Linked DNA regions of Homo sapiens: region 2 is linked to region 1. Evidence: fine-mapped expression QTL. A gene starts in region 1. The other region holds a variant in brackets. All regions are shown on one strand. Distances are from middle to middle. Region 1 holds the start of ZMYND19 (zinc finger MYND-type containing 19). Region 2 overlaps DPH7 (diphthamide biosynthesis 7).

What was found. PIP is the estimated chance that this variant, and not a neighbour inherited with it, causes the effect.
Region 2: its variant is the best candidate, but not a certain one, in a credible set for the expression of ZMYND19 in fibroblasts (GTEx, PIP 0.55).

Annotation. Positions count from the first base shown.
Region 1 is chr9:137,588,595-137,592,972 of GRCh38, reverse strand. ZMYND19 (zinc finger MYND-type containing 19) reads left to right here and starts at 2,461. Exons shown (of 6, transcript NM_138462.3): 1 at 2,461-2,760; 2 at 4,255-4,314. The coding sequence starts at 2,710. It overlaps LOC124902318 (a long non-coding RNA gene), which reads left to right. Exons shown (of 3, transcript XR_007061885.1): 2 at 103-168; 3 at 1,865-1,934. RefSeq lists silencers at 1,916-1,985, 2,176-2,565, 2,846-2,955, 3,006-3,055 and enhancers at 3,326-3,375, 3,898-4,378.
Region 2 is chr9:137,557,361-137,561,738 of GRCh38, reverse strand. The region is part of intron 8 of DPH7 (diphthamide biosynthesis 7); the gene reads left to right. Among named protein-coding and RNA genes, the nearest start is that of MRPL41, 7.7 kb to the right of the region's middle. The variant A/G (reference allele first, on the strand shown) is at 2,712.

The sequences.
Region 1 (4,378 bases):
GTAGAATGTGTAGATAAAGCAGCCGGCTTGTGGTGGACCAGGTATGAGTTCCCAAGCCAGCTGGGCACTGCCCGCAGCACTGCGCTGTGTCAACACCTGCAGGTCTTTCTCGGCTTTGGAGCCAAGAAGTCACCTTGCCAGGAACAGCCTCCAACCAATGACTGCAAGGTGAGAGGTGAATGCTGGGTCCCCTTGCAGCAGGGTGAAGGGTGAATGCCTTGGCTCCCCTGGCCCTCGGGGAGGGACTCTGAGGATGGTTCCTACACAAGCGCCTGCTACAGTAACTGGACTGGTAGCACCCCCTTCCCTGCCTCACACCCCTACTCTCCTGCTGGTGTCTCCTGGGGTCTTCTCTCAAGCTAACAATTTGGACTTTTTTTTTTTTTTGACGGAGTTTCACTCTGTTGCCCAGACTGGAGTGTGGTGGCACAATCTTGGCTCACTGCAACCTCTGCCTCCTGGGTTCACGCGATGTTCCTGCCTCAGCCTCCCAAGTAGCTGGGAATACAAGTGTGTGCCACCACATCCGCTAATTTTTGTATTTTTAGTAGAAACGGGATTTCACCCTGTTGGCCAAGCTGGTCTTGAACTCCTGACCTCAGGTGATCCACTTGCCTCGGCCTCCCAAAGTGCTGGGATTACAGGTATGAGCCACCAGGCCCGGACAAAATTTGGACTCGAATCCATTTCAAGTCAACCTCTGGGGGAACCTGGACTATGACACCAGTGCTTTTCAACTACCCTAGGGAGCACCCACCAAGCTCCACTTCTTTTCACAAAGCAGTTGCTCATAATCTCATCACACCCTTGCAACTCCATGAGGTTGAGATTGGTAGGGCAGGTACTTTTTTTTTTTTTTTTGAGACGGAGTCTCGCTCTGTCGCCCAACCTGGAGTGCAGTGGCACGATCTCGGCTCACTGCAAGCTCTGCCTCCCGGGTTCAAGCCATTCTCTTGCCTCAGCCTCCCAAGTAGCTGGGACTACAGGCACCCGCCACCACGCCCGGCTTTTTTTTTTGTATTTTTAGTAGAGGTGGGGTTTCACCGTGTTAGCCAGGATGGTCTCCAGCTCCTGACCTCGTGATCTGCCCGCCTCGGCCTCCCAAAGTGCTAGGATTACAGGCATGAGCCACCGCGCGCGGTCGGACAGGCATGTTTTGAGCAAGGCCCAGCCTGAACCCCAATGTGTGTCTCAGGCAGGCCAGGACTCATCAGCCCCTTCAGTCCTCTAGGGTGTCTGGGGTACTGGCAAGTACCAGGGGACCCAGAGATGGAACGTCTGGGCTCACTCATGTACACCCTTTGCAGGCTGGGGCACGGTGGCTCATGCCTGTAATCCCAGCACTTTGGGAGGCCGAGGTGGGCCGATCACCTCAGGTTGGGAGTTCGAGACCATCCTGGCCAATATGGAAAAACCTCACTTCTACTAAAAATACAAAAATTAGCCGGACATGGTGGCGCGTGCCTGTAGTCCCAGCTACTCGGGAGGCTGAGGCAGGAGAGTCGCTTGAACCCGAGAGGCAGAGGCTGCAGTGAGCCGAGATCGTGCCACTGCACTCTAGCCTGGGTGACAGAGCAAAACTCTGACTCAAAAAAAAAAAAAAAAAAAGCAAGAAAAGAAAACGGAACCCAGCAAGCCAGAAAGGAGCCTGTGCAGCTCCTCAGGTGCAGGAGTCGCCCTTGAGGCAGGGTGAGGCCTCCTCACGGGCGACTGGACACCGGCGGAGCAGGACGCAGGACCTAGCCCCGTTCGCTCCAGGCTGCAGGGGAGCCACGCTGCCCACCACGGCGTACCCAGTCCCTCCCTGAGCGGGTCTCGGCTTTCCCGCGGAGCCTAATGGGCCTCACTGGAGTTCCGTTTCCAGACGCCTTGGACCAGGCTGCTCTGGAGGTCAGCCGCCCCCGAGGCTGAAGAGCCGGCGGCTCGGAGAAGGCTGCGCGGGAGGCCGCGCCCTCCGGGTCGCGTGGGCCGGGCGTCCGCTGTCTCTCCAGAAACACCCGCGTCCCGCGGCAACGGCCTCTTCCTAGCCCGCCTCGCCCGCTCCCCGCCCGCCCAGAGGGCCCCGCACGAGCTCCGTCCACCTCCTCCTTCCGCGCTCGGGGCCAGGACGGCGGCGGGAAACAGCTTACGGAGGCTACCGCAAGGGAGGCGAAAAGCAGCCAGCTCGCAGAGCTCCACGGACCCGGCGCGAGTCCCCAGCCACACTCCGCACTGCCCCTCTAGGCGCGGCGCCGCTGCCCGCACAAAGCTTCCCGCGAAACTGACGTCGGCGCGCGCAGGCACCGCCCCCGGCCTCGCCCCTCCCCCGCGCTCGCCCCGCTCCCCAGAGCGCCGGCGCACTCGCCCTCCTCCTATTGGTTGTTGCGGGGCGGCGCGCGCCGGTCGGCGCCGTGCGCGCCTAGCCATTGGCCGAGCGGCGGCGGGCCGGGGGGTGTGTCCGGGGCTGCGCCCCGCCCCTCCGCTCCGCTCGCTGTGGTGCGCGCGGTGGCGGTGGCGGCGGCGGCGGCGGCGCGTGGCAGGTCCGGCGGGCGCGAGGCGGCGGCGGAGGCCCGAGCCCGGCCCAGCCTCGTCCCGCCCGGAGCCCGCCTGGCTGCTACCCCGACCCCGGCTCCGGTCCCGTCCTGTCCCGGCGCGCCGCGGCCTCGCCCCGGCCCCCGCTCGGCGCCTCCCGAGGGAGCGGCGCTGCCGGCCGAGAGCGCAGGCCCGGCCATGACCGACTTCAAATTGGGTATCGTGCGGCTCGGCCGGGTGGCCGGGAAGGTGAGCGGCGCGGAGCCCGCGACCCGGCCCGTCTCGCCCGTCCAGGCCTCCGCGCGGGGCCGGGGGCGGTTGTGCGGGCGGCGGCCGGGGCGGGGGCGCGGAGCCCGGGATGGGCCCCAGCGGGGCGGGGGACGCTGCGCGGGCCCGGCTGCTGGCCCCGCGCGGGTGCAGCTTCCTCTCGCAGGCCGGCGGGCACGCACCCCTCGGCTCTGGGGTGCACCTGGCCACCCTCGGCCCTGCCCTGCCGGAGGTGGAGGCCACGGCCCTGTCCCGAGCCGGGTGCGGAGATGCGTGGCTCGAGCCCGAGCCGCGTTCTCCCGGAGCCCTCCCAGTGGTGTCGGCGATCCGGGGCCTAGCGCGGCGTCCGGGCTGCCAGTGCGGCCACACGGTTTAAACACAGCGCCCTTTCCGAGGCAGCGCCACTTCCACACCTCTCGCCGAGGCGGGTCTGGTGTGGGCTCTTCTGTGCCTCCCAGTTCTCAGCAGGGCTTCAGGCTCGTTTTAACGCTGCCAGGGGTTGGCCACGTTAGGCTGAGCCTCAGACTCGGAGCAGAGAGGAAGAAGCCTGGGCCCTGATGCTGCAGACTCAGGGCCTTCCTCGACTTCTCTTCTTACTTGGCCCCCACGCTCCACGTTTGAGGCTGGGGATTCCATGGCACCTGTGGGCATTGAGGCTTGGCGGTTTCTCGGAGCCACCTGTGCAGCTGCACCAGCCAGGGTCCTTACCCGGATGGGAGCCCTGTTCCCGTCACCAGCGGCTGCGGCTTTTGGTGGGAGAGAGGAGCCGAGGCAGTGTCAGGCGGCGTCAGGTAAAACAGGTTCAGATCCCAGAAGAAAAACTGCCAAGAGGGAGACTGGCCCGTTCTGGGACCTGTTCCTGTTTCCTGCCCCTGCTGCAAGAGCATAGGCAGGGCCTGCTGGGGAGGAGGCTTTTTTCCACCAGGGAAGGGTGGGCTCTCCAGTCAGGTCGGAGACCAGAGACCCCTTCTAACTCCACCCATGATGGCATTGTCATCCCTTACAGCTTTTCTTTGGAACATTTCAGATGGACAAAAAGCTAAAAAGGGTAATCAGTGAGTAGCTCAGCTTAATAAACACACCCTAATCAAAACCTTCTGGCTCTTCTGCCTCAGCCCCGGCCCCTCCCTCAGCTCAGTGAAACAGTCTTTGCCTAGGTTTATTGGTGCGTTGAATGTTCAGTGCCACTGTTGGGGTTAGCCCTGCGAGGATGAAGCCTGATACCAGCTCCTCTGGCGCAGACTAAAGTGGGCAGCTGGCTTTTAACCTGTCTGCCTGTGTTTTGTCGTAGACTGCACCACCCCAAACGGTGGAATGAGGCCCCCATGTGCTGAGCTGTCTTGGTCTGAAGAGGCCTGTAGTTACTTTCCACTTCACAGGAAAATGCAACAGGCTCCTGCCTGTTCTGGTTATAAGGTTACTGCACCTCACGCAGATCCCAAATGTAATGATTTGAAACATGTGGTTAACTTCCAGACCAAATACACGCTGATCGATGAGCAGGACATCCCGCTGGTGGAGAGCTACTCCTTTGAGGTAAGTAAGGATGGCTGTTCCCTCCCCTGATGCTCGTGGTCAGTGCCCAGGAGGGTCACGAGGA
Region 2 (4,378 bases), 31 kb after region 1:
GTGCTGACCCTTTTATCAATATAAAGTGTCTGTCTTTAAATCTAGTAACATTTTTTGTTTTAAAGTCAGTTTTGTCTGGCATTGGTAAAGTCACTTCAGTGTGGCGTGATGCATCGTTTTCATTCTCTTTCAGTTCACACCTGAGTCTGAGGCGAGTCTTTGGTATGGGGTCATGCTTTTTTTTTTTTTTTTTTTTGAGATGGAGTCTCGCTCTGTCACCCAGGCTGGAATGCAGTGGCGCTATCTTGGCTCACTGCAACCTCCACCTTCCGGGTTCACGCCGCCATTCTCCTGCCTCAGCCTCCCGAGTAGCTGGGAATACAGGCACCTGCCACCACGCCTGGCTAATTTTTGTATTTTTATTGGAGACGAGGTTTCACCATGTTGGCCGGGGTCGTGCATTTTTGCCAGGAAACCTGTGAAAGTGGCGCTGTGCCCTCCTTAGTTCCTCACATCAAGGGCCTATGATGCCACATTGTTCCATTTTTGTGAAATTTGGTCACTTTGTTAAGGTGGTGTTTGCCCCAATCCCTTCACTGAAGAGATACTATTTTCCTCTTTGGGATTAATCAGTAATCTGTGGTGAGAATCTTTGAACCTGTGTCAATAACTCCCTTTTCAGACTTTTACCCAATTCAGAGACAATTGGTGCTTGAATAAATTATGGTAATGGCAAAATGGTGATTTTCTTTTTTTCTTTTTTTTTTTTTTTTTTTTGAGATGGGGTCTTGCTCTGTTGCCCTGGCTGGAGTGCAGTGGCACGATCTCGGCCCACTGCAACCTCCACCTCCCGGGTTCAAGCGATTCTCCTGCCTCAGCCTCCTGAGTAGCTGGGACTACAGGTGCCCACCACCACGCCCGGCAAATTTTTTTTTTTTTTTTTGAGACAGAGTCTCACTGTGTCACCCAGGCTGGAGTGCAGTGGTGGGATCTTGGCTCACTGCAAGCTCCGCCTCCCGGGTTCACGCCATTCTCCTGCCTCAGCCTCCTGAGCAGCTGGGACTACAGGCGCCCACCACCACACCTGGCTAATTTTTTTTGTATTTTTAGTAGAGACGGGGTTTCACCGTGTTAGCCAGGATGGTCTTGATCTCCTGACCTCGTGATCCGCCCGCCTCGGCCTCCCAAAGTGCTGGGATTACAGGCGTGAGCCACCCTGCCTGGCCAATTTTTTGTATTTTTATTAGAGACAGGGTTTCGCCGTGTTAGCCAGGATGGTCTTGATCTCCTGACTTTGTGATCTGCCTGCCTCGGCCTCCCAAAGTGCTGGGATTACAGGTATGAGCCACCACGCCTGGCCATCTCTTCCCATTCTTAATGGCATTTTTTCCTACTCAGAACACAGCATTAACATATTATTTTTCTGTCCTTGCCCCACCTGTTTTTTCCTAAGTCTCAGCTCGCAATTGACTATTTGTTGTGCTCCCATCCATCCTGGTGACAGCTGTTCCCAGCCACCGCCTGTTTGGATAGAGCTTGCCTCCTGAGAGACGCTTAGGAGAGGCCCTCGGTGGTGTTTCCTAGACTTCTGAATACTTGATACTTTTCTCTGTAGCCTTGATAATTGAAGGAGAACTTGCCCATTAATCCCTTGACTTGCATTTCCTTTGCTTGAGTTTCTTAAACACACTCCAGCATTGTCTGTTGGGCACACACTGGGTCTCCTGCCTTTTAACTGCTTTTGTAAAAATTGTGATAAAATTTATGTAACATAAAATGCATGATTTTAGCCACTTTAAGTGTGCAATTTAGTGCAGGGACCAGCCCCACAGGGTCAGTGGGCTTCTCCCTGTGTGCGGCGACGAGAGAGTGTAGAAATAAAGACACAAGACAGAGATAAAAGAAAAGACAGCTGGGCCCGGGGGACCACTACCACCAATGTGCAGAGACCGGTAGTGGCCCCGAATGTTTGGCTGCACTGTTATTTATTGGATACAAAGCAAAAGGGGCAGGGTAAAGAGTGTGAGTCATCTCCAATGATAGGTAAGGTCACGTGGGTCACGTGTCCACTGGACAGGGGGCCCTTCCCTGCTTGGCAGCCGAGGCAGAGAGGGAGAGGAGAGAGAGAGAAAGACAGCTTACGCTATTATTTCTGCATACCAGAGACTTTTAGTACTTTCACTAATTGACTACTGCTATCTAGAAGGCAGAGCCAGGTGTACAGGATGGAACATGAAGGCGGACAAGGAGCGTGACCACTGAAGCACAGCATCACGGGGAGACGGTTAGGCCTCCGGATAACTGCGGGCAGGTCTGACTGATGTCAGGCCCTCCACAAGAGGTGGAGGAGCAGAGTTTTCTCTAAACTCCCCCGGGGAAAGGGAGACTCCCTTTCCAGGTCTGCTAAGTAGCGGGTGTTTTTCCTTCACATTTTTCGCTACCGCTAGACCATGGTCCGCCTGGCAACGGGCGTCTTCCCAGATGCTGGCGTCACCGCTAGACCAAGGAGCCCTCTGGTGGCCCTGTCCAGGCATAACAGAAGGCTCGCACTCTTGTCTTCTGGTCACACCTCACTATGTCCCCTCAGCTCCTATCTCTGTATGGCCTGGTTTTTCCTAGGTTATGATTGTAGAGCGAGGATTATTATAATATTGGGATAAAGAGTAATTACTACCAACTAATGATTAATGATATTCATATATAATCATTATCTAAGATCTATATCTGGTATAACTATTCTTGTTTTATATTTTATTTTACTGGAACAGCTC[A/G]TGTCCTCGGTCTCTTGCCTCGGTGCCTGGGTGGCTTGCCGCCCACAATTTAGTGGTATTAAAGACATTCAAGGCCGGGCGCAGTGTCTCACGCCTGTAATCCCAGCACTTTGGGAGGCTGAGGCGGGCGGATCACCTGAGGTCGGGCGCCTGTAGTCCCAGCTACTTGGGAGGCTGAGTCAGGAGAATCGGTTGAACCTGGGAGGCGGAGGTTGCAGTGAGCCGAGATCACGCCACTGCGCTCCAGCCTGGCGACAGTGACACTCCGTCTCAAAAAAAATAAAAAATAAAAGAAGACATTCAAAATACTGTGCAATCATCACTGCTACTTATTTTCAAAACTTTTCTATCACCCCAAACATCCCTCCCCCAGCCTCTATAACCTCCGTTTACTCTGTCTATGGGGATTTGCCTTTTCTAGATATTTCATGGAAGTAGAATCGTGTGTCTTTTTATATCCGGCTTCTTTACATAGCTTAACGTTTTCAAGGTTCACCCCTGTTGGAGCATGTGTCAGAATTCTCTTTTTAAGAAGGTAATGATGGACCACATTCTGTCTGTTCATCCTCTGATGGACATTTGGGTTGTTTTCACCTTTTGGCTATGGTGAGTTTTTAGTTTTTTTTTTAAAGAGAGGGTCTTGTGTCCTGTCACCCAGGTGGGAGCGCAGTGGTGGAGTCAGAGCTCACTGCAGCCCGGACCACCTGGACACAAGCAGTCCTCCTGCCTCAACTCAGTCCTCAGTGTCGGGATTACAGGCTTGAGCCACTGCATCCAGCCTTCAGTTCTTAAAGTTGAAGAGGTGAACTAAGACAGGTCTGAGAGTTCAACATTCCAGGCCAGTTTTGTCAGGTACTCTGTATAGGCCTTTTTTTCTTTTTCTTTCTTTTTTGAGACGGAGTCTTGCTCTGTCTCCCAGGCTGGAATACAATGGCACAATCTCAGCTCACTGCAACTCCCACCTTCCGGGTTCAAGCAACTCTCCTGCTGCAGCCTCCGGAGTAGCTGGGATTACAGGTGTGTGCCACCACGCCTGGCTAATTTTTGTATTTTTTAGTAGAGACGAGGTTTTACCATGTTGGTCAGGCTGGTCTTGAACTCCTGACCTCAGGTGATCAACCCGCCTCGGCCTCCCAAAGTGTTAGGATTACAGGCGTGAGCCGCTGTGCTCGGCTGGCCTTTTTCATAACTTTATTTATGTATTTTTTTGAGACAGAGTCTTGCTCTGTCGCCCAGGCTGGAGTGCAGTGGGGTGATCTCAGCTTACTGCAACCTCCACCTCACAGGTTCAGGGGATTCTCCTGCCTCAGGCTCCTGTGTAGCTGGGACTACAGGCATGCGCCATCATGCCTGGCTAATTTTTGTGCTTTTAGTAGAGATGGGGTTTCACCATGTTTCCCAGGCTGCTCTCAAACTCCTGCCCTCATGTGATCCACCTGCCTCGGCCTCCCAAAGTGCTGGAATTACAGGCGTGAGCCACTGCACCCAGCCTGTATCTTTAATTTAAACAATTTTTTTTTTTTGAGACAGAGTCTTGCTCTTTCACCCAGGCTGGAGTGCAGTGGCACGATCTTGGCTCATGCAACCTCCACCTCCCACGTTCAAGCAATTATGCTGCCTCAGCCTCCCGAGTAGCTGGTACTACAGGTGCATGCCACCACACCCAG